Regions from separate parts of the Homo sapiens genome. Here regions 1, 2 and 3 are each linked to region 4. Evidence: fine-mapped expression QTL. A gene starts in region 4. Each other region holds a variant in brackets. All regions are shown on one strand. Distances are from middle to middle.

What was found. PIP is the estimated chance that this variant, and not a neighbour inherited with it, causes the effect.
Region 1: its variant is the best candidate, but not a certain one, in a credible set for the expression of TMEM161B-DT in nasal epithelium (TOPMed, PIP 0.65).
Region 2: its variant is the best candidate, but not a certain one, in a credible set for the expression of TMEM161B-DT in whole blood (INTERVAL, PIP 0.79).
Region 3: its variant is the best candidate, but not a certain one, in a credible set for the expression of TMEM161B-DT in whole blood (INTERVAL, PIP 0.52).

What each region holds. Positions count from the first base shown.
Region 1 is chr5:88,481,903-88,489,704 of GRCh38, reverse strand. No RefSeq gene overlaps it. Among named protein-coding and RNA genes, the nearest start is that of LINC02060, 47 kb to the right of the region's middle. The variant GA/A (reference allele first, on the strand shown) is at 4,178.
Region 2 is chr5:88,379,454-88,387,255 of GRCh38, reverse strand. All of the region lies in intron 2 of TMEM161B-DT (TMEM161B divergent transcript), which reads right to left. It overlaps LOC124900200 (small nucleolar RNA SNORA70), which reads right to left and starts at 4,484; the gene lies at 4,349-4,484. It also overlaps the pseudogene RPS3AP22. The variant C/T (reference allele first, on the strand shown) is at 4,572.
Region 3 is chr5:88,315,600-88,323,401 of GRCh38, reverse strand. The region is part of intron 2 of TMEM161B-DT (TMEM161B divergent transcript); the gene reads right to left. Among named protein-coding and RNA genes, the nearest start is that of TMEM161B-DT, 51 kb to the right of the region's middle. The variant A/G (reference allele first, on the strand shown) is at 4,454.
Region 4 is chr5:88,264,231-88,272,032 of GRCh38, reverse strand. It overlaps TMEM161B-DT (TMEM161B divergent transcript), which reads right to left and starts at 3,151. Exons shown (of 3, transcript NR_039995.1): 1 at 3,006-3,151; 2 at 1,448-1,507. It overlaps TMEM161B (transmembrane protein 161B), which reads left to right and starts at 3,188. Exons shown (of 12, transcript NM_153354.5): 1 at 3,188-3,312. The coding sequence starts at 3,310. RefSeq lists enhancers at 3,022-3,211, 2,902-3,401.

The sequences.
Region 1 (7,802 bases), 220 kb before region 4:
TTGCAAATCTCTCTTTCCTGAAGGCAAAGGACATGCTAGTGGCCTGGCAAGGTGGAATTCCTGCAGCAGCAGCAGCAGCAGCAGCAGCGGCAGCAGAGCCCAGCGTCAGAGAGACCCTCTTTGTAGATAAGGCCCCGCCCTTTCTTCCTTTAGACAATCTTTGAACCTCATCCAAAAATGAGAACAATTGAAAAATGTTGTCCTAAATAATTATTTTTAATGACAATATTTGTAAAATGTCTTCAATCTAAAGATGATTTATAAAGTGTATGTATCTACATTCTGTGTCCTCATCAAGCGTTCTCACTCGCTGTTTGCTCTGGCTCACTATTCATTAGCTGAGTTTCAACAATGAAGAAAGAAGGATTGATTAGTCTGTCACTGTACTTTGGGGCAGCCAGCCCCCCAAAACATTGCTAAACTTAGTTTACAATTAAATCTACAGGATGCTTTTGCAAAAGTACATACTTTATCATTTGAGATTTCTCACATGTGAAAACATGTGAGATCCAGAGCGCAAGACCACTCTAATGATTTAAGTCTTTTATTTTCACTTTAACTTGAAAACCTTTGCAGGAATTTTTGCTAGCCGCATAAAGTTTACAACTTTGCAACACAATTCTACAGACTGTTTTCCCCTCAATCTATAATAATTACTGTTATTTTCTAGCTATTGTAAATTGAGCACAGCATCATTCATTCAGGAAAGCTCTCCTGGCTTGCGTCATTTTAGCCACATTGTTCTCTGTGGCAGGTAAGACTAATCCTGTAGCATTTTAACTTCAAACTTAAAAGAAGAAAGCAGCACAGCCAAGACACAACTGAGTATAGTTCATCTAACTAAAGAGGCCCTGTTGCCTTTACTATAATGCAGTCACGATGCTCTGCCTTATGTTCCTAGGCTTTTCTTCTATTTGAGACAACTTCTACTTTCACACATTAACACCCTATGCCAAAATCCAGCCTGTGACTGCCTCGTCTGAGAGAATTGTGGGCAAAGTTCTAATTATTGCTTAGTTAGGTGCCTGCTCCATTTGACATACATGAGTCACTTTTGTTCTTTTCTTTTTTGTTGTCACAAGGCTCCTATTCCTTTAGATTTCTTTTTTATTTGTAAAGGGGGAAGTCTCTCCAGGCTTTTCCCACAGTGTCCTCCATCCAATAGGTTACAAAGGTACTAACATGCTAAATAGAAATGGTACCCTTGGGAAAAAATCCATTTCTTCTGAGGTTGTCCCTGTTCCGGTGAATGAAGACTTCTTTGAGGTTACAAATATGTTTAGCAACATCTCCATACAACTGATTACAGGTTGCTTCATTCAGACTCCAAGGAGAAAGCCCTCCTATCCTGGATAGGCATGAGGTGATGAATACACTCTTGGAACAAGGAAGCTTTATTTAAAAGACTCTTTGTGCTCTTCTGAGTACCCTAATGAGCTATCCAGGGTGGTGCATCATTGTGGGAGCAATCAGACAAGTCCTGTATCCTCTTTTCATTAATCCTGCTCTCTTTTGTAGCCGTGCTTGTTGTTGACTCACAGTACCCATCATTCCTTTGACTAAATAGTAGAAAAAACATGACTTTCATGTTATGGCCCACATCACCAAAACCATCAGTTTTTATATATGGCGAAGAGCAGCACAGGAACCCGATCTCTTGCCTCTATGCCTACGAGAGGTCTGGATTTTGCTTCTTCAAACATGGTTGCAGAAAATACCAACCTGAAAGCTTGAGGGGAATGCATGTTTGCTAAGTTCACTGTGTTTAATAAACCTCAAACCACTTGGAATCTAAATTGATTCCATTTAGATGCAGGCAGTCAGGCTGCATCTACACAAATGAAGTGAATATGTAGGAGCTTTATCCAGATAACTTGGGGCCCCTGTATATTTGGTGCTTTCAAGATTCAAATAATGCTTCAATTCTTTGTTTCATGTAACATGTAGACTCAGTCTTAATGGTAATGTTTTCTTATCTTAATATTCAGAGACTAAAATTCACACTGCATTTCATTTGTTTGAGACATAATTTATAATTAAACATTCACAATTTCATCATATTTTAGTAATATAGAGCCTGTGGAGAAATAGAATTCAAAATTAAATCGATTTCTAGATAAAGGTGAAATAAGTTCCTTGCTTAAAATATGCGATACTTTAGGTCTAAGGTAAGGTTTTTCCATATGATTTATTTTGATCATTGCCTTGAGTCTCCATTTTCCTTTGTATGTTTAATAATAGCCTAAACTATATATTGACACCATACTCAGAAACACTGTGACCTCTGCGAAAACCCAAGACAACATGAGTATGTAAAATTTATTTTTGTGGTCATTTACACCAAAATATCATGAAACACCTCATGGTTGATTTGATTATAAGAAAAAGAAGTGAGCGTGTCACACTATCCCATTCAGCTGGTAGCCGCAGACAGATGTAGGCAATTCAAAGCAGAGAGTGCATCCTCAGTTCTTGAACATAATTTTACTGGTGGAATTGAGAAACTCAGTGACTGTGTGGCACTTAACCATCCCTTCAAATCTTGCTCACACTGTCTATGGAATACTTTTCCCTTTAAATAACAGGCCGAAAACTTTTGGCACAGAGTATAAATGAATTAGAAAAGTTGTGTATAAGTAACTCAAAAACTCAAAACACTAATAATTCTCATACTTCTTGAAAAAGAAAACTACAATTCTTACCTGAAAATTAGTCAGTCAATGTACATTTCAGGATGTTTCATAATATACACCTAAAACCTGTACCTTTTGAGGCAAGAAGACAAAAGCCTTGTTTCTAATCCTTGTTTCCTCCAGCCCATTCGCAGCCCCTCGGCATTCTGGCACTCTATTGTATTTATTTTTAATTGAAACCTCAGTTATAATTAAACATTTGTGAGTGAAGGTAGAATGCCACTGCTTTAACCCAGATAAGTGTGCCTGGAGTTCATGGGCATGAGTGTATGACGAAAGATCAAATATCATGTGCAGCTGACATGTTCTGAACAGGTCCTGTATATCCATGTATAACTGTCTGTCCACAGTATAAAATTTGAGTTAGTGATTTAAACCTCTGTACTTAGAAAGTTCCCAGAGCAAATGAAAATGGTGTTCGAGGGTAAAGTGATAGAAGCAATATCAAAATAGTCAGTGAAAATAAACTCCCTGTGTGTATTCCTACGATTGTGCCCAAGGTGCTAATTACACTAAGGACAGGAATTAAAAGGGGAAAGACAAAGACCCAGAGCTCTGAGTGAGGCCTAATTGTATTTACACAGATAAAGAGACTAGATGGGGGAAGAAAAGAAACAACGGGCAAAAGTTCTCCATTTAGTCTTTATAATTAGTTAAGAAACATTTAAATTAATAACACATTCTGAGTAATGCAGCATGTGTGGCATATAGCACATTTTAAATTAATTCTTGAAATAGCTACTGGTGTCCTACTTTATTTCAATTTTGATAAATTAGCTTACAGTCACTTTTTGATGGGTGTCCCATAAAGTAAAAATTAGTATTTCATCTGCCATTAACTACTCTTCCTGTAGAAAAAAAAATAACATATATAAAAGGCAGAATTTAAAATAGATATTTGAAGTTGATCCTATTAATTTGTATTTTTAACAATGGCGTTAGAGAGGAAGAAAGGGTAATAAGTTTTATGAGCTTATTTGTGTAGCCTTATAGTAGAAAAATCTCTTGATTGTCCATGTTTAATATAAAACTGGTCACTTGCATTTACTATTCCTCATTGATATGATACAATAATCTTCTCTGGTATTTTGGAGCTCAGAGAAAAGGCCTCAGATTATAAGACTGCTTCAAAATAGCTAGCTTTTGTCCTAGAATTATGTAAAAATTTACAATCTGCTGATTACACTATTAGGGAGCTGCAGCCTCATTGACCTAATGTCATAGTTACCTTTGGAATCCTTAATGTCTTAAGGCATGATCCAGGGTAGTGCTTCTAAAAATTCTCTAGTTTGATTTTGTCTGCATCTGAGTATATGGAAGTGCATGTGTGTATTTGTACTTAATTTTGGGCAATTGGAAAAAAACTTTTCTATGTGATCCTTCAGCCTAGCAACGAATCAAGCTACTTTTCTTCATGTTTACTTAATTATTTTGTATGCTCCCCATCCAAGCAAGCAATTCAAGTATATGTAACAATCAGAGGG[GA/A]CCAAACATAAACCAAAAAATGGTCATATGTAAAGCTCAGACAAAAGATTTAGGCACAATAAGGTGAATGTAAGAAGTAGCTAGAAGAATCATTAGCTTAATTTCTAGGTATTCTAATTTTTGTCCCTAAAAGTATTGCAACTCAAGAACAGATAAGTGCATCTTGTTAAATTGAGGAGAAATAAATCAGAAATGTTTCTTTTGATTTATAACTGTCATCAGTGCATGCATGTTCATGGGTACATTATTTTAAAAATATTTCTTTAAGGACTGGTTAATTCTCTCTCATACTTCAGTCCCCTCCCCCACCCTCATCTTTGCATTAATTTGTCTACCCTAGCAATAAGTGTATGCTTTAATCATATATATTTAACCTACTCAGGGTTTCTAAAAGGACATATTTATGTCTTAGAAAACCAAAGTGATTTCACTTTGTTCTGACAGAACAACGTACATTTCATTCAAGTGTCTTTTTTTAGGTGATACTCTTAGCAAGGGATTTTATTTACTGAATGACATTTCTGCTAACCTGGAAGGGAAGATATCCATTCTTCAAATACTGTCATTACCAAGCTTTAAAAAGACTTGATTGTACCATGTTAGGGAAACAGTGTCAGATTTTCCATCAAACTTTCTCCCACTGTAATAACTGAGCATAAAAATGAACTTCGAGTGATGAAATGACTACAAAGCAAATTAATGCAATCAAGTCATTAGTAACAACTCTGTCCATATCTGTTAAATATTTTCAAACTATTCTAAAAAAACACACCCAGAAGGCAAACTAACAGTGAATAGAAACAAAATGGTCAGCAGCGTGTGTCGCATGTTATTTGAATGGAAAGTAATTTATCGCGTCTGAAATAAAAGCTGTTTATTCTTGTGTTTCACTGTCTGTAACAATCTTTACCATTTATCTGTGAAAAAGTGAGAAACTGTACCGTTATTAGCATATGAATACTTGACACATCAAATTGGCTGTACAATAACAGAAGGACATTTGCTATTGGTGTATGCACACAGACAAAGCAGCCATTTTGAAAAAAATTGAAATGGTGTGGGTGGTTTAACCCTTTACTTATCTTGTAGGTTTCCCACTCCTGATTTTGACCGGAACAGTTTGGCAGTTAGAATCAGAATATTTTTATAGCAAATAAAAGTAATCACGGGCCATTATGTTCATGATAATTACGTTGATACATTCACTCTACTAGAAAAATAGAAGCGGAATGACAATAAAAGAGTTTGTGTGAGTGTGTGTATGTGTGTGTACATGCATGTGCAGGGTGGGGGAAGGGAGTGGAGGCCGGCAGTGTGTGGAGGGTGCAGCAATGAAACAATGCCTACGTACAGTTTTATTTCATGGCAACAACATACTGGTCCTTGGGTCAGATGTGTGAAACTATTTCTCAAAGAAACCGCATACATAATTGAGGCCCTCCGAAGGGTTCCCAGTTGAAGTTGCCAGGCTACATTCATTTCAAAAGCAGAGCCATTTGTTATCATATTTAAATTAACTCTCTGCACACTGAACTTGAATTTTAGAGTCCTGCTTACTTATAATTCTTAAAATAGTTGAGAAAGGGGAAAACATGTGTCTGGAAAATGGAAATAAGGTAGTCCCCACAAGGGACAGCAGTGGTTCTCATGCAGGCCTGAGGTGAAACAGCCTTTTATAGCTTAAATTTAGAAAGATCTGTTTGGAAACACTAGAAACAAGTCTTTATTTTCTCATGCAATTTTTTGTATAGATCCAGATGCAAGATTGTTGCAAAATCTTGTCATTTGTAATCTGTGTGTCAGCTAGGTTTTTACCCTTATCAATGTACTAACCTCATTCCCTTTCCTGCTCCCCCAGATTATTCTTTGCCGTGAGATTTAGAATAAGATAATTTCTAAAGTTGCACAAAATTTAAACTATTTTAGTTTAATATGTCAGTTCAATCTTGGCTATAATAAAATACACTTTTTTTTCCCTAATCTGTGAAACTTTACGCATTATTTTAAACAAAGTTTATGCAACTCACTAGATAAATGTTTTGATAATTTTGCCAATTGCTGATACATTCATTCAAACAAACAACTCAGTGGAAATCAAAACATGTAAACTGACTTGTGTTGGGACCTTGCTATAACTGCACAGAGGAAAAACTTTCCAAATGAAAATACTGTGCATGTTTTTTTTTACAAGATGCACAGAGACATGATTGCACATTATTTTGTCTGTTAAAAGTGTTTAAAGTTTAAGCTATCTCCATTGTTAGAATGTTCTCCATTACCTGAGTTGGTAAAATTAATCATGGGACAGACTTTCATTCTTGCTAAGTTTGATACATAGAACTAAATAGCCCATTCTGAATAATCCATGTATTTTTTCTTCTCTTTTGAAATACAAGTTTAAAGGTTTTAATCACTATTCCCTCCTCATTATAGGACACTAATTTGTTATGATTAAGAAAACCTGTGTTCATCATTGTAAGGAAAATTTAGCTTTTTAGACTGCAATGCATAGTAAAATTTCATTTGAAGGCAATAAAAAAGAAACAAAAAATAAAACAAAACAAAGCAAAAAAGTACAATGAATATAAAATACCATTAAAAGCTGTAATGTTAAAAGTAATCTTCCAAATACCTACCGAGTCTCTCATATAACATAAAGAACATCTTATTGTTCTCTTTTTAAGTAATTAGTACTTGTGAAGTCCTACTATAGCCATAGAAAGCAGAAACTGGTCATCTTAATGACATCTATTAATAATATAACAATTGATAGGCAACATGAAAGTTGAAAATAAGTTACACAATTTTAAATTCCTTTAAAATTGTTGAACGAACACATACAAAAAGTGTCTATTAGTCTTTCTTTTCTTCTAATAAAATGTGGTGTTTTAAAACCACAATCCATTTGCTTATTTAAAGTTCTGTGTGGCCAACAATACTACACGGTTAGTATGTCCTCTCAAGTGCTCTTTGAGAATCTTGTTTACTTATTGGAGGAAGTGATGTACAACACTGCAACATGCAGAGCAGTACTAGATCTTTCTTCTTCTTTTTGTTTTTGCAACTGTAATATGAGATTAAAAGTAAGAAGCTAAATCTTATTAAACAGCAGAAGCTTTTCAAAGATAAAACATAAACTTTATGGGAACATATAAAAGTTGCTTGTGGTGATACATTTCTGCTATTTCAAAGCTTTATCCAGGTTCATACTGACTATACATAGTTATAAATGTTAGAAAAATTAGGATAGATAAAACTTTGTAAATTCTTAGATTGGTTCATAATACAAATAATGTAATTTGGCTGGGTCAAAATTGAATCATTAATAATATCAGTTTCACAGCTAATACTTATATCAAACACTGGTCCTCTTTGAAAGCTTCAAGTTATCTTTCTTATGTAAAGTTCTCTTAAAGAAAACTGTTATATGCTCCAGGGGATTATTAACATATTTGTCAATTAACATTTAAAAGCCATTTATGGCCAACAGTTTGTCCCTATTGCTATTTTGTATTTTAAATTAGAATATTTTAATTAATGTACAGGACAGAAACTTTTAAAAAATAAAATGTAAAATTTCCTTTTTTGTTTGCTAAAGAGGTAAGTTTTTCTTATTCTGCAGAA
Region 2 (7,802 bases), 120 kb before region 4:
GGCAACAAATACCTAAGCATCAGTACTCTTTGACATAGTGTATTCATTTATTTTTATTTTTTAAGCAGTCTGACAAGTTATTTACCGTATCAATTAGCATTGGCCTGAAAAGGAGTTGTTGTGCTACATGTGTTTATGTTCAGCTTTTGAGTTGTCCTGATAGTTTTGGCTTTTATTTGTACAGGTATTTATCTTGAAAGGATCACCACCACCACCACAAAAACCCTACCTCATAGTTTAACATTTTCTTAAAACCATACCTTGTTTGCAACCCCATCATCTCAGTATTAAATTTTTTTCTCCCAATAAGGCAAATGACACTTTAGCCTTAGTTAATGTAAAAACAGGAAGGTGTTAATCTCATTTCCAACATGTCAGCTCTTCCAGGTAGGGTATTAATACGCAAGATCCCCTGCTGGCAGCCTCAACAGAATCTTTCCAGCTGTGAAGTGAAGTCCAAACCTGGTAATTTTTGCTTTCTTTTATTGTGTGTGCTCAGGTCTGCTTCATTCATTGAAAAAGGTATAGCAGTAGCTAAATGCATATAAAGAAACAAACGGATGTTTCCAAACTATTGACTTAACTCTGTACTCAGACACTATGCTAGGTTTGTTTTAAAATATTCACACACTACAAACATTTGGGTATGTTTGATGATAAATAGCAACTAGGTAAGACATATTTGAAATATCTCCTGAGATCTATAATTTTGCATCAGAGAACTCCAGTCCATTGTCACCAATAGCTTTGTTTAATTTGCTTTCTTTAAAACAATAGTCTGGACTAAACAAGGAACAGTAGGGGCTATGTTGTAGGAAGTATTTTGGGATCCTTATCTAACAGAAAAAATTATATTCTTGAAGTAATGTGGGAACCAAACTTTTAATTTTTATTTTTTCTTCACATTGTAGAGATGAAAGGAAAAAAATGTTTTCATAGTACTGAGTTGGTGTGGACAGTGTGAAGGAAATATGTTTCCTACAGAAATTTTTAGGAGTTTGGGGAATTGGTTCTACTTATCCTACTCTATGTGTATAAACACCAAAGGTGTTTTTTTAGGGGCAATTTCAAAAGAGGGCAGTTAGAGCAAAGAGGAAATCAGTAACTATAGTGAATATATAAGAACATTAAAATCAAGTTTTCCTATTTGTAAATGTGATTAATAAGAAAGCTTAATTTTAAAAAATATGATGTAAATATGATTAATAGGTTTTAAAGAAAATTTCACATGGTTCCAATTTAAGAAAGAATTAGAATAGCCATTTTAATTTCACACAGGAATGGAATTATACGTGGCTTTAAAAAGTTATTGATAAATAGACTGTAAATACTGACAAGCTATTAGTTCATTTGAACTAAAAACAGGAGAGAAACAGAAAAAATAAAATGGGATGGCAGCACAGACAAAATAATATTTACAGGGTGGGCAAGTAAGAGGATGTGGCCATAGAAAAGTATGAAAAGACATGGGCCCTGGAGGCATGCAACTAGTCTTATACCTAGTTGAGGAGAGATTTGAGAGGAGAGATAGTGATGACGCCACTGAAGAGGTTAATTTTTGCCCATGTCCTCCCACTTGCTAGCCACATGTTCTTGTTTCATAGTTGAGACAGGTATTATTATGCCCACTATACAGATAAAGAGACACAAATGCAGAGAAGTTGAGGATCCTCTGACAAAGAGTTACATGCCAGCTCCAGCCCTGTGATTCTTTTTTATTTTTAATTTTTATTTTTTAAGTTAGGATGAGAGCTTAAAAACTGCGAAAGGGAGGGAAAAAAGATGAACCAAAAATATGTGAAATTTTTAAAAAGAGTCACTGAGGAATTCTGAGCTGTCAGGTATATTCAGAAAAATAAAGCAGGGAAAAAGTGAGATGATAGGGTTTTTAAAAATTCCTGTTCAAGTTCGTAACAGGCACAGTGCCTCTTTTTATTCATCTCCTGCCTGTACATATTTTCCCACACACCATTCTGTAGTGATAGAATTCATTCCCTTGCCCACTGGGTCAGTATTTTATTACTTTACCGGTTTCTTTTTGTAATAGCTTTTTATACTCCTTGCCAGTGAAAGTATACTCCCAGAAGAAGAAGATGACCAAAGGAAGGAGAACGTGGGCAGGAAAGGCCTGGCAAGCAAGGTCACTGTTAGAGCCACGTCTTGATTGTTCCATTTCCCCAGTGGGCACTATTACACATTTCCCCTTAAGCATGAGGCCATGTTATTTTCTGTGTCTAGCTTTTACCTAGAACATGGATGAGCTCATCAGAAAATATAACAAAATTAAATTCTATCATTGCTCATTGCAACCACGTAGCTGATATTTTATGTATTGCATCTTAAATCTCCTTCTGGAAGTGTAACAATTATAGCCTGTATAATTTGTACCATTGTTGACATTTTTATCTTCTTGAAAAACAATTTAGTACAACTTTAATTGAAGATCTTAAGCCTCACAGGTTAGTGGGCTTGGAGCAGGATGCGGAAATAATGGGAGAAAACCACTCATCAAAGTAGTTAAATGACTTGAACTCGATCACACAATTGGCTGAGTCTGGATTGAGAACCTGGAGTTTTATTTTAGGCTCTGGATCTTACCACATTGCCTTTCAAATTCATTTCAGCTGGACGCGGTGTCTCATGCCTGTAATCTCAGCACTTTTGGAGGCCAAGCTGTGAGGATTACCTGAGGTCAGGAGTTCTAGACCAGCCTGGCCAACATGGTGAAACCCCGTCTCTACTTACAATACAAAAATTAGCTGAGCATGGTGGTAGGTGCCTGTAATCCCATCTACTCAGGAGACTGAGGCAGGAGAATCACCTGAACCTGGGAGGCGGAGGTTGCAGTGAGCCAAGATCACACCACTGCACTCCAGCCTGGGCAAAAGAGTGAGACTCTGTCACAAAAAAAAAAAAAAAAAAAAATTATTTCAGCCAGTGTTTATTGATCACTTGCCATGTGTTAAATGCTATAGAGAATTGCATTAGAATTCTCCACTTGTGAGCTTATTCTTTTATTAGGGTATGTCCAAACAGGTCTAGAAGAAAAATTTTAAAACATCTTTTGCAGGAAGAGAAATTTCTAAGTCAAAACATTCATTCCCCCAAAAAGCAAAACCCTAACATATATTTAAAATTATGCAACAACATAGATGAGGGAAATCTTTAGCTATAAGTAGTGAAAACAATCAACACTACAAAACTATTGGCCTTATTTGTATGTCTGCCAAAATAAGTAAAAACATAGGCAGTGAAAGAAAAACTTGACTACTAAGATACCTTCCTTACTCAAAGCTACCATCTCCAAATATTCTCCGAGTCAACCAACAAATATCAAGTATTCATTTCCTGTCAGGCACTGGATTAGAGATCTGAGAAGGAACAAAACAGATGTAATTCCTACCATATTGAATGAAATAATTTGAATATCTTTTCTACTTTCAAAATATAAGCTAATATACTTTCTGGCCATTCATATTTTAGTAAGAATTACTTTAAATGAATAATCAATTTTCTTGGCTCTCTGTTATGGGAGGATATTAGTTAGTGACAGCTCAGTTTTATTGTTCATGGTGAGGTTGCAGGGCAGAAAACAGAGAAAGAACAATAAAAAAGCGAAAGGTCATTTTAGAACATGAAGAATGTGGGGAGGGTGTCCCAGAATGCAATGCCAACAAATATCGAGTACTCATTTACTGTCCGGAACTAGATTAGAGACCTGAGAATTCCATGGAATGATGCCACCATGAAAAGCTCATGGTTACCTTAGGGGTTTGGGTGTCTAGAGAAAGGTAGGAGAAGAGTGACCAAGGAAACATTGCTTTCTTATTGCATAAGGATCTTGGTGTCAAATTCATTGACTCAGGAATCTGTGAAGTTAGAAACCTTATTAAAGAATTTGGATTTTTTTTCCCCACAAATAGAACTCTTTTTTTTATGGATAGGATTTATTGGTTGGCATTAGGAGATGGCCACACAGTGGAAGACTTCATGAGTACAGAGCTTGTCATTTGTCCAGAGAGTCACAATTGGGGATGTATTTGACTCCACAGTCATCTGGGATGAGCTACTTCTCAGCCACCATGTCTCCAACTTCATTCAAATTGAACTTGATAAAGCACCACTTCTTTGAGATGTGGATCTTCTGGCAGCCAGGAACTTGAACTTGGCACTGTGTAGGGCCTCAATCACATGCTCCTTGTTCTGCTTGGTGCAGATGGACCTGATGACTTGGCCAATATGAACCCAGGCTATGATACTCTGAAACTTTCCAAAGGCAGCTTGCACACCTCTCTACAGCCTACACTGGGACAGCATAAGGTCAGAGACATGAACATACACTGGAAAGGGCTGCCTTCAAGGTCCCTTAGAGGCAACCCATACAAGAAGCAGGCTGCATACACTACCAAGGAATCTGCTGTTTGCAGCCATTGCACACCAAGCCCCCAGGAGGAAAAGAGCTCGGTCAACTCAATTGGCTGCAGACAGATAGGCTTTTTTATTTGCCACTATTAAAATCAAACTTTAAACAGATTCTTGGACTTGTGGCTCATATCCATCAGCTCATTCAA[C/T]GTTAGCACCTGTCTTGTCCCCAGTAGCTTTTCCAGAACAACTAACTTCATCATGAAACTCTATTAGTTTTCCCAATTCAAACTTGGGTTTCTTCAGCATTTTTACTTTTCTAATGAATACATCATGAAGAGGATAAATAGATTGGCAAGCATTTTCTATGTCTTTTCCAATGTTGTCTGGAATCAATTTATTGAACACTTTTTTGAAGTCGTTTGTCTGCACTTCTGTGTTTATGATTTCCATCATCTCCTTCTGAATTTGACAGACCTGTTGGTGCTGAGCATAAGAGGTCTTCTGTATCTGATTGTTGCATTTTCTATAAAATCAATACAGAACTGACCAAGCAAATAACCATCGGTAGTCTTGACATTGACATGAGCTTCAGTCATGGTCTACCATTTTTTGACCATGGAACACATTTTGTCATGGGTAAGATCCATGCCATGGAAGTTAGTCAGGCAGTTTTTGCCCTGAACATCTTCAGTAATCAGCTAGTTTATTCTAAATGCAACTTCATTATTCTGCAGATCAGCAAGACCCACTTCAAACACATGACCCTTAAGGTCATCAGGTGCAATTCTTGTTCCTTGAATCCTAGTGTCTTTCCAATACTCCTTATACTGACCATAGCAGGTGCTTTCACGTGATACCAGTCTTTCTTAGAAAATGGATCAACCCCTTTCTTCTTGGCTTCCTTTTAGCCACCTTTCATAAAACGCTTATTCTTGCCAGCCACCATGGTGCTGTTCAGAGACCCAAAAGGCAAGAATTTGGATTTTATCAACCTTGAATAAGGTCTGCAAAATATCACTTCTTAGTAATCTTTCATGAGTGATCATTCTAGCCCCAGAAAGATAGAAAGACTGTTATATGTTCCTATATGTACTGGCTCATGATATGGTCTGACATAGGACAGTCTTTCTGTCTGTTCTATATCAGACCATATCATGAGCCAGATAGCTGATATTTTAGGTAGGTTTAGAACAGTTTTTTTAAAAAACATTTTCTACCAAAGCATCCCTAACTGGTAGTACAGGAGAAAGTTTTGAGTGGCAAAACTCCAACAACAGAATTATACCAGTGATGGTAGGGAACAAGAGAACTGTTGAGGGTAAGTCAAGGCAGGAAGTTTGAAATGCCTTTAAAATCTTGTGGTTGTTTTCCTTAAAAATTTAAGCAATTATTATATACTACCCCATAACAGGTTCATGTTTTTTATTGTTTTCATTTTTGTTTTCAGACAGGGTCTCGCTCTGTCGCCCAGGCTGGAGTGCAGTGGTGCCATTAGGAATCACTGCAGCCTCAACCTCCCAGCTCAAGCATCCTCCCACCTCAGCCTCCCAAGTAGCTGGGACTACAGGCACTCACCACCATGCCAGGTTAATTTTTTTTTGTATTTATTGTACAGACAAGGTTTCTCCATGTTGTCCAGGCTGGTCTTGAACTCCTGGCCTTGAGTGATCCATAAACCTCAGCCTCCCCAGGTGCTAGGATTACAGACATGAGCCACTGCACCTGACCTCATGTTTGTCTTACATTTAAGCAATGCCCTTTAAAATACTTGCTAGTATTCAAATTGACTTTCTGGGAAGAGATGCCATGATAATTGTGTGGTCTCAGTCCACCCACACACTTCGGCACATGCACGAGGATGTTTTACAGGGTTTTGTTGGGGAATATACTGAATACACATGTTCAGTTGTCTGAGCAGTCACAGTGCCATGGTTTAGTTGAATTCAGAGTACCTTGAATTGGTTTGTAAGAGTGTGATTGGTCTGTCTCAGATTCCCATTCATTACTGGGACCCCCAAGTTTCCAAGGATTTTTCTATGATCTACATCTGCCTGCCAATGATATGGGCTTGGATGGCCAGGACAAGTAGAAAATATGAGACCCAGCATTCCAGGTCAAAATGATTCTGGGTGAAGCATCCCTGCCAGCCATCCCCCATATGGGCTGTTGTTGGGGTGATCAGACCCAACACCAGGTCGTGGGGGTGAAGAAGTCCAGCAGAATCAAAGGATTGAGAAAAACACAGTTTGAGAGAGAAAGTGGGACCAGGGGGCCATCACAAGTGTGAAGGCTGCAAAGGCCCCAAGCTCTGGGAGCCCACGCTATTTACTGGTGCTCAAACAAACAGGTGGTCAGGACGTGGGGGTTGAAAGGAAACAGTGTATCAAGTGAATGAGAAACATATGGCTGCTTGAGATAACAGGAGTGCTAGAAGCAAGGAACCAGCAAGTCTAGCAGACATGCAAGCCCTGCCTCAGCTTCTCTCCCAACAGTCATCTTTTCTCCCAACAAGCTGTTAATAGAATTTTGCCTTTTAAACATCCCCCTCTACTACCAGACTTGGCCCCAGAGAAGTCCGACTGAGTGTAAGGCACAGAGAGCACAGAGAAGCTGATGCAACTTTGCTATTATCTAGGTTCCTTCATCCCATCAGTATTTATTGAGTGTGTGGCAGGCATCATTTGAGAATGGGGATAAAACAGTGAAGACAGAAAAGGTTACAGTGGTAGGCAGAATCCTGACTCCTGAAGATGTCTGTGCACTATTCTCTCAGAACCTGAGAATAGTTACCTTAAATGGCCAGAGTCTTTAGCTGGCCACAGTGGCACACACTTGTAGTCCCAGTTGAGGTGAAAGGATCACTTGAGTTCAGGAGTTTGAGACAAACCTGGACAACATAGAAAGACCCCTGTCTTTAAAAATAAAAGTAGGCTGGGCGCGGTGGCTCACACCTGTAATCCCAGTATTTTCGGAGGTTGAGGTTGGCGGATCACTCGAGGCCAGGAGTTTGAAACCAGCATGACCAATATGGCAAAACCCCGTCTCTAATAAAAATACTAAAATTAGCCGTGCATGGTGGGGCATGCCTGTAATTCTAGCTACTTGTGAGGCTGAGTCACAAGAATTGCTTGAACCCAGGACAGGGAGCTTGCAGTGAGCCTAGATTGCGCCACTGCACTCCAGCCTGAGCAAAAGAGTGAGACTCTGTCTCAAAAAATAAAATAAAATAAAATAAAATAAAATAAAATAAAATAAAATAAAATAAAATAAAATAAAGGCTTTGCAGATGTGAGGGTATGGACTTTGAGATGGGAAAATTATCGTGGATTAGGTGGGCCTAATCTAATCGTATGAGTCCTTAAAATCTGAACCTTTTTCATGCTGGGAGAAAGACGAGATAAAAGAAAGATAGATTCAAAATGTGAGGCCAGGCTTGG
Region 3 (7,802 bases), 51 kb before region 4:
GCCGGTACATTTTTAATTTAATATTAACTAAAAATATGCAAGCAACTAATCTTAGTTGTTTTCTGTTTACTTCTATTCCTGGAAGATTTCTAACATAGTCTCATGCCCAATTTTCTAGAGATAGCTTGCAGCTTATCAGCTTGCTTCCATTTAGTAATAATTGGGGTATTTGGATGCACTAAATAAAATATGATATATCGCAGATTTTGGCAATGCATATAAGTTACCTTAAATACTTTCTGCTGATTGCCCAGTGACTATATTTATGCATATTATATTTATATATCTTATATATAAAAACACATACATGAATTCCTGAAAATGCGTTATAGACTGAGTGATGTTTGTCTTCAATTATAGTACGTGTTTTTCTTTTTCCTTGAATGGCTCTTTCCAGTTTATTCTGTGACTCAGCTACACTAACCACAGTTCAACTTAAACACTGAAATTGCTTTTACATTGCTTATCCAGGTTGGGGGAGAGGATGGAACAGGAGGGTGCAGAGGTTTGGGGACCATGGAGAATGATGAGAAAGCTCAGTGGCTGGGTCCGACAGTTTCTTTAGAAAATGTAATTCAATCTACTTCTCCTTGGCTTTGTATTTGCAACTATTTGAAGTTATGTAAATATTTTCATCTGTTTAACATCTTAGCTTTTCTTTCCCATGCTCATGTCCTCATAACGAATACATTGTTATCAAAAGAAATTTATATTAAAAAAGAATGAATTTCCTGCTACTAATTCCTCTGGAGTATATACCTAGAGTTACCCAAGTGGGAAGCAGTCAATTCAAATTAACTGCCACTTGGAGTCCCTGACCCTCAGAAACCACTGCTTGTTTATTCCCTTCCATTGTGTCTTGTTGCTTATGGCACGCCTCTTCTAAGAGTAGTCATACATGTTGTGCTTTAGTTTCAGCTGCCCTGAGGGATTATTTGCATTTTGGAATCTTTAGTTTCAGTCAGACCATAATAAACATAACGTCAAATTTTGTTAAAATTAGTCCTGAACTTTTCACATGATGTGATAATAAAAAATAGAATACACTCTACACAATATGCATTCTACAATGGAGTTAAAGGCACATATAGGCTGGGTGCAGTGGTAATGCCTATAATCCCAGAGCTTTGGGAGGCTGAGGTGGGTTGATCGTTTGAGCTCAGGAGTTCAAGACCAGCCTGGGCAACACGGTGAAACTCCATCTCTACCAAAAATACAAAAAATTAGCTGGGTGTGGTGGTGGGCACCTGTGGTCCCAGCTACTTGTGAAGCTGAGGTGGAAGGATGGCTTGAGCCAGGGTGGCGGAGGTTGCAGTGAGCCAAGAATGTGCCACTGCACTCCAGCCTGGGTGACAGAGCGAGACCCTGTCTCAAAAAAACAAACAAAAACAAAAGGTGCACATACGATAGGAGAAAATAAGGTAGACAAGCCTTTATCAGCAAACTTAAATGCTGTGCTGTTTATCACAAACTGGAAATATTTTACTTATGTTACATTATTTTATTCATTTTACATTATTTATTCCTTGGCACAACCCTATGAGAAAGATATTCTTATTATTCCCATTTTATACACAAGGAAACTGAAACTTAGATTAGTAATTAGATCAAGGCCACACAGATAAGAGAGGCTAAGAATTATACTCAGCTCTAATAGCCTTCAGAGTTGAGGCCTGTAAGCATTGCATATGGTACAACCTTGGAGGTACTGAAGATCAAATTAAGAGAGAAAAAACAAAAATGAGAGAATATGGAACAATTAGTAAATAATTATATCACATTGCATAAAACAGTTACATGGTAATAACTAGACTTTTCAGCTCATAATCCAGACTATTATTTTTAAAAATTATATATACAGGGGGAGTAGGACACATCTAATAACACTTTTAAGAAAAGAAAATCCTTGTAACCTCAAAATGGGGGTTTTCTCTGTAACTGAAGAATTAAAAGTTACCTACAGGCTAATAATAAATTTTAAATGCTATTTATGAGTTTACTCCCCTATATTCATTGACCCTTACTCTCTATCTCCCCCAGGGGATTTTCTTTCTCCTCTTAGCCTCACCTCTTTAGGTACCGCCCATCACTGAGATCTTAGCACTTGATCTCTTTTAATTCTTCAGAGTTCGTTCATTCAGCTCTCATTACTATGCAGAGAAATCCTACGGTAGACCCAATGTGAATGACTTCAAGAGAGATAAGAGTTCCTTCTTTATTAAACAAGATGTTGAGGTTACTACCCTTTCTACGTTTCTTAGTTTTTTCTCTTTTCTTTTATTTTTCATCTTAAACTAACCCTGGATAAACTCGTTGAACTTTGCCATTCTAAAATCCAGAGATTATATAATCTAGAGAAGGTTATCTGGAGAGAATCCAGGTCCAATACAAGAGTCCATACCCTTATGCCTTCAGACAGCATCTGGCAATTGCCCAGTCCACTTTTCTTGATTCCATTCAGTCAGTTCTGGAACTAGACTTTGAATGCCTTTCCTTGACCATTCTTCAAGTTGCCATCTCAGACTACTGCAAGGCCATCAGGCTCTCTGTCACTTATCTTTCCCCTGACTCTACCAGCTTAGTTTCCTCTGTACTCTTGTGTTCTTTGCTTAGTTACATTTTAAGTCAAGGAATCATGCTCTATTTTACTTCTGTTCAGAATCTAACACTATGTTGCAGAGAGTTGCACCTGGATTCTATCTAATGAGACCCTCCAAGGGAACTGCAGTTCTAACTTTAGAGAGAACTACTTGTTTTCAATTTTGATTATCAACTTTATAGCTTTGTATGGATTTAGCCACTGAAGGGGAAAAGAGAGATACTTTGAAGCAATGGTCCTATTTTTACAAAAGACATTATTTTATAATTTTCAGGGTAGGCAAAGTTACTCAAATAAAGTTAAGAACTAAAGAGTATACACCAAGTGTCCTGCTTCTTTTTTACTTTTAGGCAAATATCCCAATTGTTAGTTTTTATTCATTCTGACATCATATCTGGAGAATAAGTTTTTATTTGTGCATACTGAACATGACGTAGTGACATATGATTAAAGCAAGTTTTTATACATAGAACTGCAAAATTTGCAGCAAAAATAAGGCATCAGGCTTTGCTACTTTAAATATATATCCACTTAAAACTACTATTTTAGGAAAGACGATTAAAGTAAGGAACAATCAAAAGTGAAAAGATAGCAGCACCTCCCTTTGAAGTGGAAAAAGTCCCTTGGTCTAACTAGGGAATGCTGACTTGGAAAAATTGGTAGTTTGACACCGTGGAAGAAATAAAATTGTCATGAACAAAGGTGAAGAGGGATTATATTTGTCAAGAAGAGACTCCTTCTGGATGAACTATCTGAGGGCTGTGGCATGTCACATCTTGTCTTGGAAAGTTAATGACTGGTAATGTTGGAGGAATAGGTCTTTTGTCAGATCATTATAGCAGCCTAGTTACAACTGCCTTAAGATGTAATGACTGGTTCAGATAAGGGGCCAAAATACTTCAGGTGAAACATGACTCTATCCAATCACCTTTTCCCTGATTAGCAGAGGGAAGCCAAGGCAGTCTTACCTAGAAGGCACTAAGGGTGAGCCCTAGGGCAAGAACACAGAAGCTGCTTTTGGTCCCCAGAAAATGAGGGCTGAAGAGTTTGCTTGGCTCCTGACACTGTGCACGTAGTCAGCAATGCTTTGCTCAGCCTTGCTCTAGTATGAACAGAGCTGGTTTTGGAATTTACTCTTCTTATTTTAAGCATCCTGGAAGAATGGAAAGCAAAAATTAACCTAGAAAATTGAATGAGGCTGGATGAAAGGTGTTCTTGTATTAAATGAAATATTTTATTGCTCTTTACAAAAAAGGATGAGATCCCATGCAGTTTAGGTACATATCAGGAAGTCAGTAGGAAAACTGTCCCTTTCCAGGCATGCTAGGGATCAAATTTAATGCCTGGGTACAGTGAAAGACATTGGTTTTTCCTCACCTATTACTGCATCCCAGTTTTGATGTGTGTTTAGATCTCATCTAATGTGAAAAATGAGAGGACAAGAAAGGCTCCTATTGAAGAAAAACACCAAGAAGCATTATTAGGATGACAAATACTCTTTTAAACTTCACCTTAACTGTTAATTTTAAAGATAATTTTCTCTTGTTTAAAAAAAAAAATCATGCCAGGTGCAGTGGCTTGTGTCTATAATCCCAGCACTTTGGGAGGCCGAGGATCACTTGAGCCCAGTTGAGACCAGCCTGGGCAACATGGTGAAACCCCATCTCTACTAAAAATACAAAAATTGGCCAGGCATGGTGGTGCATGCCTGTAGTTCTAGCTACTTGGGAGGCTGAGGAGGGAGGATGGCTTGAGCCCAGGAGGTGGAGTTTGCAGTGAGCTGAGGTCATGCCATTGCACTCCAGCTTAGGCAACAAAGTGAGACAGACTCCATCACAGGAAAAAAAAAAAAAA[A/G]GAAAAAAAAAGAAAAACATTAGCCAGGTGTGGTGATGTGTGCCTATAGTCCCAGCTACTCAGGAGGCTGAGGTTGGAGGACGTTTGAACCCAGGAGGTCAAGACTGCAGTGAGCTCAGATCATGCTGCTGCACTCCAGCCTGGGTGACAAAGTGAGACCCCGTCTCAGAAAAACAAACAAACAAACAAACAAAAAGGTACACACTTAACATGCTGCTTATTACTACCCCAAGTGATCTATGGATTTAATATCAAAATGCCAATGATGTTCTTCATAGGATTAGAAGAAATTCTTTTTCTTTTTTTTCTTTCTTCCTTCTTCTCCTTCTATTCCTCCTCCTCCTCCTTCTTCTTCTTTTTGTAGAGACAGGGTCTCACTATGTTGCTCAAGCTGGTATTGAATTCCAGGGCTCAACTGATCCTCCCACGCTGGCCTCCTAAAGTGCTGGGATTGATTACAGGTGTGAGCCGCTAGGCCTGGCTGAACAAATAAGCCTTAAAATTTGTATGGAACCACAAAAGACCCTGAAGAGCCAAAGCAATCCTGAGCAAAAAGAATAAAAATATACTACAAAGCTGTAGTAGCAAAACAGCATGGTACTGGCATAAAAACAGACACATAGACCAATGTAACAGAATAGAGAACCCAGATATTAATCCTCACATTTACAGCCAATTGATTTTTGACAAAGACACCAAGAACATACATTAGGGAAAGGATAGTCTCTATAATAAATGGTGCTGGGGAAACTGGATGTCCATATGCAGAAGAATGAAACTAAACCCCCACCTCTCACTCTATTAAAAAAATCAATTCAAAATGGACCCAAGACCTAAATGTAAGATCCAAAACTATAAACTACTAGAAAAAAAAAAAGGAAACACTTTAGGACGTTGGTGTGGGAAAAGATTTTGTGAATAAGACCTCAAAAACATAGGCCATGAAAGCAAAAATAAACAAATGGGGTTATATCAAACCAAAGAGCTTCTGCACAGCCAAGGAAGCAATCAACAGATTGAAAAGATAACCTACAGAATGAGAGAAAATATTTGCAAACTATTCATCTGACAGGGGATTAATATCCAGGATATACAATGAACTCAAATATCTCAACCGTAGGAAGCAATCTCATTGTAAAATGGGTAGGTGATCTGAACAGACGTTTCTCACTTGATCTCAGGCAAAAGGCCTACAAGCTATGAACAAACATTTTTCAAAAGAAGACATACAAATCTCCAATAAATGTATGAAAAAAACCTCAACATCATTAATCACTAGGGAAATGCAAATCAAAACGACAATGAGGTATTATCTCATCCCAGTAAGGATGGTGATTATCAAAAAGGTGAAAAATAGCAAATGCTGATGAAGATGTGGAGAAAAGGAAACTCTTATACACTGCTTATGGGAATGTAAACTAGTACAGCTACTATGGGAACGGTATGTAGATTCCTAAAAACACTCCAAATAGAACTGCCATTTGATCTAGCATTCCCACTACTGGGCACCTACCCAAAGGAAAGGGAATTGGTATATCAAAGAGACATCTGCACCCTCATGTTTATTGCAACACTATTTGCAATAACCAAAACATAAAATCAACCTAGGTGTCCAACAACAGGTGAATGCATAAAGAAAATATGTTATATAAACACAATAGAATACTATTCTACCATAAAAAAAGAATGAAATACTGTTATTTGCGGCAATATGGATGAACGAAAGGACATTATGTTACATGAAATAAGCCAGTAACAGAAAATTAAATAAACATCGCATGCTCTCATTCATTTGTGGAAGTGTAAAATAGTTGATTTTGGGTTGGTGCAAACCTAATAAAACAGGTTTTGCACCAACCTAATAGAACGGGGGCTGTTAGAGGCTGGGAAAGATGGGAAGGAGGAGATAGGGAGAGATTTATTAAAGGATACAAAATTACAGTTAGATAGGAGGAATAACTTCTAGTGTTCTATACTACTCCTGAACCCAAAATATCTGAGACAGGTCTCAGTCAATTTAGAAAGTTTATTTTGCCATGGTTAAGAATGTAGCCTCAGGAGATCCTGGTGACATGTGCCCAAGGTGGTAAGGTTACAGCATGCTTTTCTTTTTTTTCTTTGAGGTGGAATCTTGCTCTGTCTCCCAGGCTGGAGTGCAGTGGCGCGATCTCAGCTCACTGCAGCCTTCGCTTCCCAGGTTCAAGTGATTCTCCTGCCTCAGCCTCCTGAGTAGCTGGGTTTATAGGTGTGCACAACCACGCCCAGCTAATTTTTGTGTTTTTAGTAGAGACGGGGTTTCACTGTGTTGGCCAGGCTGGTCTCAAATTCCTGACCTCAGGTGATCCACCTGCCTCAGCCTCCTAAAGTGCTGGGATTACAGGGTGTGACCCACTACGCCTGGCCACAGCTTGCTTTTATATATATTTAGGGATACATAATACATTAATTAATACATGTAAGATTTACATTGGTTCAATATGGAAGAGCAGGACAACTGGAGGTAGCAAGGGGTGGGATGGGAGGGCTTCCAGGTCATAGATAGATTTAAACATATTTTTATTGGTTGAAAGAGCGATTATCACTAGAAAGGAATCTCTGGGTTAAGATAAGCTCCTGATTCGATCATGACTGAACTGTGTAACCCTTGCCAACCCCTCATTCAGGGCCCAAATCTTGTCTCTTGAATCTCTAATTCCTCATCACGTGGTAGATTTCCCAGAACCAAGATTCTTCCCCCTGTCCTAATGAAAAATGACCACACTGGAGATTTCCATTGCTGCAATTCACCTATCAACTGATTGAAGTCTCTTGAGGCAAGACATCACCTTGAGTTTGCTAAGCCCTATGATTCAAATGGTGCCACCGTCTTTGAGGCCAGTCCTTACAGCTAAGATTATTTCTGAGATCCTTCTGCCATTTCCGAGCTTTCTTTCTGACAGTTGTTGAGTTTCCTGCATGCCTCGCAAGTGAGCCTGCACAATATTTTGCAGAGGCACAGAATTAGTATTTATTTAGAGCTGTGTTTTGTAGGGGGATTTGGGTAAACTGAATCACTTCTCTGAGTCTCATTTTAAAATCTGTAACATGAGGAAGTTAAAGAGTCTCTGAGCCCTAAAGTTTAACATGTTAAAAATTATCCTAACCAATGATTTAAATATACTGACAAAGATCAAGATGAGCTCATCAATCTGCTTATCTCTTCAGAAAAAAATATTCCTCAGAAAAAATTAAAAACAAAATGAATCTCATAACTTTACTTAAATCAGAATAGGTACTATTGGCAGACTAGAATTTTAAGGAATCTATAAAAGCACAAAAGATAGAAGCCAGACAGGATCAGACTGATACT
Region 4 (7,802 bases):
AATGCTGTTTTAACTTAGACAATAAACATTTTCCATTAGAAAGACTAGTCTAATGGCTCTTTAGAACAGCTAGATAAAATTCCACTAAGCATATATAACAATTGATCAATCTTATCGTCTGTAAGACTGCAACAAACTTTTTACCATTATAGGTATTACTACAAATAACGTCTTTGTCATAAAGCATTTTAAGGGCAATTTAAATGAAGTAACTGTTTACAACATTCACTTAAATGATATTTGTTATGGGGAAGGCGAGAAAACAAAACAAGGTCCCAGCTGTGGAGGAATTTATAGTCTAATTAGGAAAACAGTATATGTTAGGGGAAAAAAAACTACAATGAAAGCATACGACACTTAACCTTGTTCAGAAACAGTAATTTCTTAGCAGAAAAACTAAGCAGAACATTTTGCAAAAAATATGGACTGAACTGCGAAAAAGTGATATATCTTAATGGTTTAAAGAGTTCCAGGTCAGTGTGGGTATCGTACTTTTTGTTGGTCTTGAAAGCATTTGAGAACAGTTCTCATTCAGGACATTTCAACTCATCACAAAGCCCGAATGGTAAGCAACCAAGACTTTTCTCAAAGATTATGCTCCTAATTCCCTTGCTGAAACTACTGAATTTCTTTTCATCTCCATCTATCTTTTCTTCCCTTTCATAACTGTCCCCTTTCTTTGTATCTTTGTCAAAGACACTCACCTATTTTAAATAATGGAAACAGAGAAATTACTGTACTTCAAGGCAGGCAACCAATAGATAATAATATTATTCTACCAAAAAAAAAAGACTGGGTGGCACTACCTTAAAACATATATCCATTTTAATCATTAAATAGCATTACTTATATAACAGATTTTTCACATGTAATTGAGAGAACTGTGTGAAACAGAACATTAAAAGATATTAATCAAGAGTTATTCATCAACTTGCCATACAACAAATAAGGAACACTGCACTCTGTGATCTATTAAAAATGATAAGCAGATAATCAAAACTGCGATTTCTTTTCATGGTTTTACTCTAGCAGGAATGGATTCCATTCTGATAGTAATTCCAGTTTTACTGTCACATAGAAGGAGATACTTTGCGAACCTCAATGACTGCCAGGTTTAGGACAGATATTAAGAACCACAGTGTCAGAAATGAAAGAGTACAACTTCACAGAATGTGTTGTCTCTGACAGGTTGATAGCCACTTACCTTCTCCATCTTTTCTTCCTCAAGGATAGCAGCTGCTTCCCACAGATACACCAACAGGCAATTCCAGCCCCTCTCTACCACACTTACCATTTGCAGGTGCCTGTGGCTTGTCTATTTACAACCTTGTCCCTACACAGCAGAAGCGGAACCCTTCAGGAAGTTCTGGATTCATCCTCAGCAGGATCTGTTTCACAAACTATTCTCCAGTCCCACCTTCCCTCCAGGTATTCTGTCAGTACTTACGATTCCCAGATCTTCTTTTAATTGTCACGCTGTTCGTCCCCTCACAAAATCAAGTTTAAACTAAAAAAAAAAAACAAAAAAAAAAACCCTCATACACTCAGTCTGTGTCCCCTTTCCTGACATAAAATAACTGGCCCTGTGCATGCTTCTTTTGGATGGCTGAGAACCCCGATTCCTTTGGGCCATTTACAGCTTGGATACCATACGCTCCAGGTACTTTGATAAGCAGGGTGAAATTTAATATCTATAACAACGCCTGCCTACTCAACCTTCTTAACTTCTCCCAAAACTTCCTAGTTTCCCTTCCCAATTCCAACTTCATAACAAAACATCACACTATGGCACAAAGTGAATTCATGGATGAAATTACTAACAGCTACAACTTAAGTAAGGACCCCAAGTCGTGAGACAAATTTCTGGGTTGAAAGTGCTCTGTATATCCATTTCAAGCCTGCCTCCAGTACGATGTCTCATTATAATCAAATAAAAAGGCAGAAAAAGTTGAATGGAATAGAGTTTGGAAAAAACACAAAATTAAAAGTTGTATGAGAGTTTCACTTATTTGCATCTGATATAAATATCTATACATCTATAGAAAAAAAAAACCCTCATACACTCAGTCTGTGTCCCTTTTCCTGACATAAAGCAACTGGCCCTGTGCAAGCTTCTTTGGGATGGCTGAGAACCCCGATATATCGATATATTTATAGATAGACGTCTACATATCTATCCAAATATCTATATCTATCCATATATCTACCTATCTATCTATCTATATATATATCTATATCTATCGATCGATATCTATCTATATCTATCTATCTAGACTTCCCTGGTGAGGGAGTGAACCGCTGCCTGACGGGGGCCAAGACTGGCAGAGCAGAGACGCGGTTTGTACATGAGGGGAGGTGGTGGCCAGAGCAAAAGTGAACCGCAGGCTAGGCAAAGACCACAGCACACAGCCATACAGGTGTCCAGGACCGTCAGATCCCAGAGCATCTATCTATATAGATAGGTATCTATATGGAAAACGTCCATATTGGAACGTATTAAAGAGGCAGAATTTTCTTCCTGGGTTCTCTGCTCTTGGTAGATGTTCTTCCGGCTTCAATTGCCACCTGTGAATAGTGAAGAAACTTCTCACTATGAGATTCCATTGCCCGGAAGGAGGGTAGAGCTACGGTACCCACTAAGGCAGGGAACAGAAGCAACAGACGGACAGGTCTGTGGAAATGAGGATATGCTAATAAGGGACCGAGTCAGGAAAACTAGAGGGTAACAAGAGGGCGTCAGTTAAGCTGAGACAAAATGACGGCCAAAGGTGGTCTTTACTCTCTCTAAATCACCTGGGTCTGGAGTCGACTCCCATCGCGCACCCTCACTCCCACCCCTGGCCCCCTCCCGCCCCCCACCCGCCCCCCTCCCTCTCCCCTCCCGCTCCCCACACCAACGTGTGCCTCCGTCACCTCTCAGACAGTGGATGCGTTCCTGTTGAAACCACCCAATCTACCTCAGGGTCCTCGCAAGCGCAGCCACCACGATCCGCCCGCCCACGTACCTGTGCTGCGCCTGCGCCTCCTCCGCTCTCTCAAGGTCAGCACCGCCCCCAGCCCACAACCTGGCACCCACGGAAGTTGCTTTAGAGGACGTCCTGCGTATCTTCACCTCTGCGTGGCGTGGGGTCGACGGCGCTCTGGAGAAGGGAGGAACTTCCTGTCCCGCGCGCGCACAACTTCCGGCAGAGCCGGAAGACCCTCTCTTTCGCTGTTTGAGAGTCTCTCGGCTCAAGGACCGGGAGGTAAGAGGTTTGGGACTGCCCCGGCAACTCCAGGGTGTCTGGTCCACGACCTATCCTAGGCGCCATGGTGAGTTCTTCTGTGAGGGCAGGAGTGACAACGGTGGGGCGAAAAGGGCGGGGAGGTCAGTACTGTGAAAAGAGCCATCAGGTGCTCTGCTCAGAATGGAGTTGAGACGTTGGGATGAGCTGCTGGGTAGGACCCACCACCTATCTCAGGGTGTCTGAGCCCCTGAGGAAGCAGCATTACGCCTACCTGTCTGGGAGACTAGCGGGCCGGAGGCAGGGGCGTATCTGTCAGGGAGTATGGACTGGGTAGCCTGCCTGTTCATGGCCCATTTACTGTGTATGGCCTGTGGCGCCAGGTGATCCCAGAGTTGACCTTGCCGGGTCAGTCACCTCTTCTGCGCCCCCTTCTCCATCCGCGGAACAGTGGCCAAGAACTTCAGATCTTAGAAATGCTTTTAGCCTCTCCAGGTGGACACAACGGGTCTCCTTGTATAAGATCAACACCTGTCATTTAAAGAAACGGTAGTCCCCTTATTCTTTACACTTAGCCATTTCATAATTGAAAAGGGTGTCAAATAAAAAACCCGAGTTTAGTAAGGACAGACTTTATTCGAAAGGAATATTGCAGGGGTGTGGAGGAAGGTTGAAGGAACTGTTGCAGTAGGGAGAATGACCGTAAGATTTGCATGCACCTTAAAGGTTAGGCAGAAAGGGTTTGTCTTTTGTTGGTAGGGGTAAATAAGATGTCAGGAATTGGGATGAAAATATGGGTATGATCCGGCAGTAACCAGATAATGTTTTACCCTGAGCCCATGTATTCTGAGGAGGAGCTGTTAGGAGAGGTTTGTATATGTTGTTTCAGACTGAGGGAAGGACAAAATTCAGGTACCCGAGAGAAGAGAATCTTAAAGTTTGGTTAATAAGTATTTTGTTCCGATTGATCTGTGGGACAGGTACTTCAGCAAGTCATTTACGAAGCAAAGGATGGGAATTAGAAGGGTCTAGTTATGGCCTTGTTATAGGTAAACAAGGGGTAGGGGGGTATGGATCAACCCTTAGTCTTATCTAAGTTCTACAGGAAAGATGATTCTTTGCAGTAAGCCAATTTCTCAGAACACAAACGGGGGCAAGGGGTTTCTTAACCTTTGCTGTTTTTCAAGATCACGGGGCTCTGGTGAAGTTCATTATTGTCAGTTTCTTCACCGTATACAAGATTTCAAACCCTCACTTGCAGAGGCTTCTGTCCTGGAATTTAGCTTCAGTTTGTCTTATATTTTCAGGGCCAAATATTGCCAACATTCAGTTAATGTGTGTGGTGATTGGCTTTTGAATGACTTTTAGAAACTTAGCTGAATGTAGAACAAAGACCTTCAAAATAATGTAGTTCCTGGTGCACTTTACCAGATAACCTATCTCTTTAAAGTTTTTTTTTTTAAGCCTCAGTGAATAATATGGTTTGTATTAAGAAAGTTGTTTTTCTTTTGTATCAGTGAAATTAGACAAGGATAGGGAAAACAGAACTGGGAGAAACCAAAGCCTAGTAATCACTCTTCCATCCCCATTTTTACAGAAGAAAGAATCTGGGGTCTAGAAATTGACAGTGATTTTTCTAAAGTAACAGTAGTTTGGCAGTCTGGACTAAAACTCATATTTTCATTTTTTAAATTTAAGATTAATTTTTGACTTTTTGGTCTGAAAAGTTGAAGGTAAAGTATAATTAAAATACTTAAGTTCATCATAGTCACAGAAAAGCTGAACATGAACTTGTTCTCAGTGTTTTGGAATACTAGAAGTAGAATCCTGCTTATCCTGTCGGTTCAAAAGAGATGGTTAATGTTTGGAACTAATGTAATCTTATGCTGTTTTTCTGAATGTCATTTTGGAACTAACTAGTTGGCTCTTTTCCTTCTGGAAGTGCTTATATTTCTGAGCTAATTATCTTGGCTGAGTTTTATCTTTCCCAGCTATGAAATTGATAATGTCTGTATATGCAAGTGTGGTTAATGCTTGGAATTTTTCAAAGGGAAGAGTTTAACCATTAAATGAAGTGAACATGGGCTGAATTTATTGAGGATTCAGCTTGTTGAAATCAGAACTTGTTTTGCATTGCTGGGGCCTAATGATATTATGAAAAGAACATTAGTATTGACCCCAGAGGACCCAGATTCTGCCCATTGTTAGTTATATGGATTTGGAAAAGTCACTCAATTTTGATAAGAGTTCCAAATTCCTCCTGGGTAAGAGAAGTGGGACTTGATGGGTATTAAAGCACCTTCTTAAATTTATGATTCCATGACTACTCAACATTTTTGAGGATAGTTACATGTTTCAGATTAAATAAAAGTTAGTCTGATTTCCACTGTTTTGTTTCCATGCCATTTTGGCTTAAGTTTGATTTCTTTTATCATTCTCTTTTTCATTTTTTTCATAAGTCACATAGATAGTACTTGGAATCTTTGTATATTTGGCCAAGTCTTTCACTACTGTCTTAAATACTGCTCCAGAATGGAACACAACTCTTGGAATGTTTTGATTTAATTCTTGTTTTAATCAATGATAAACTAATTCTGTGCTCTCATTCTCTCATACATTATGTATACCGATACTCAATAGATACCTGTGCCTATAACAAGGTTTTTGTATTATGAATGAAGGAGAATAGGATTATGATCCAGACTGAAAATACTGAACTCACGCTTAATTTTTATGCTTTCAAGTTGTTGTGAAGACAAGTCTATAGGAAATTTACTAATGGAATAAAGCCATTTGCTCTATTGCACTTTCCTTTTTGAAAATTACAGACCAACTTTGATCAAATATAAATCTTTCTACCATTCAAGCTAATTTGTGGAAGATAGGTAGATTAGAGCTAGCTCCTGGAATTGCAGATATCACGGCTTGCATCTGTGTATCATCCTGTAGTAACTTACTGCTGTAATTGAACAATGGTTTGTGGGCAGGTGTGGGAGAGTAGGCCATGGGGAGGTTATAAACCTTTGCCATAATCAATTGGATTTGATGAAAAGTTTTCTTTTTGAGGGGAGTGGAGGGGAGTGTTGGGAAGAGTGTGTAAATGCTATAAGAGAAACACATATAATAGGCTCAAAGAGTACAGTGGAAAGAAATTATTTCTAACTGAGAGCAGGTTGGGTCATGTAGTAGGTCACAGGTTCCCAACCCCTGGGACTGTGGACTTGTACTGGTCCATGGCCTGTTAGGAACTGGGCTGCACATCAGGAGGTGAGTGGTGGGCAAGTGAGTATTAATGCCTGAGGTCCACCTCCTGTCAGATCAGTGGTGGCATTATATTCTCATAGGAGCGCAAACCCTGTTGTGAACTGTGCATGTGAGGGACCTGAGTTAGGTGACCCTTAAATGACAATCTAATGCCTGATGATCTGAGGTGGAACAATTTCATCCCGAAACCATCCTTCCTCCACACTGCCTCCACAATGTGTGAAAAAATCGTCTTCCATGAAACCAGTCCCTGGGGCCAAAAAGGTTGGGGACTGCTGTAGTAGGTGACTTCAACTGAGTTTTGAAAAGTGGGTTAATATACTAGTTTTCAAGCTTGAGTTTGCATAGGAATCACCTGTGATACTTGATAAAAAACACTTCTCTGCGCTGATAATTTGGGGTAGCATAAAGTTTTAGAATTGTATTTTTAAATTTTTTTTCAAATTTTACTTTAAGTTCTGGGATACATGTACGGAACATACAGGTTTGTTACATAGGTATACATGTGCCATGGTGGTTTTGCTGGATTTATCAACCCATCATCTATGTTTTAAACTCTGTATGTATTAGGTATTTGTCCTAATGCTCTCCCTCCCCTTGCCCCCCACCCCCTGACAGGCCGCAGTGTGTGATGTTACCCCCTCTGTGTCCATGTGTTCTCATTGTTTAACTCCCACTTATGAGTGAGAACATGGTTTGGTTTTCTGTTCCTGTGTTAGTTTGCTGAGAATGATGACTTCCAGCTTCATCCATGTCCCTGCAAAGGACATGAACTCATTCTTTTTTATGGCTGCATAGTATTCCATGGTGTATATGTGCCACATTTTTGTGATCCAGTCTATCATTGATGTGTATTTGGGTTGGTTCCAAGTCTTTGCTATTGTAAATAGTGCTGCAATAAACATACGTGTGTGTGCATGTATCTTTAGAGTAGAATGATTTATAGTCCTTTGGGTATATACCCAGTAATGGGATTGCTGGGTCAAATGGTATTTCTGGTTCTAGATCCTTGAGGAATCACCACACTGTCTTCCACAATGGTTGAACTAATTTACCCTCCCACCAGCAGTGTAAAAGCGTTCCTATTTCTCCACAGCCTCGCCAGCATCTGTTGTTTGCTGACTTTTTTAATAATTGTCATTCTAACTGGCATGAGATGGTATCTTATTGTGGTTTTGATTTGTATTTCTCTAATGACCAATGACGATGAGCTTTTTTTCATGTTTGTTGGCCACATAAATGTCTTCTTTTGAGAAGTGTCTGTTCATATCCTTCGCCTACTTTTTGATGGTGTTGTTTTTTTCTTGTAAATTT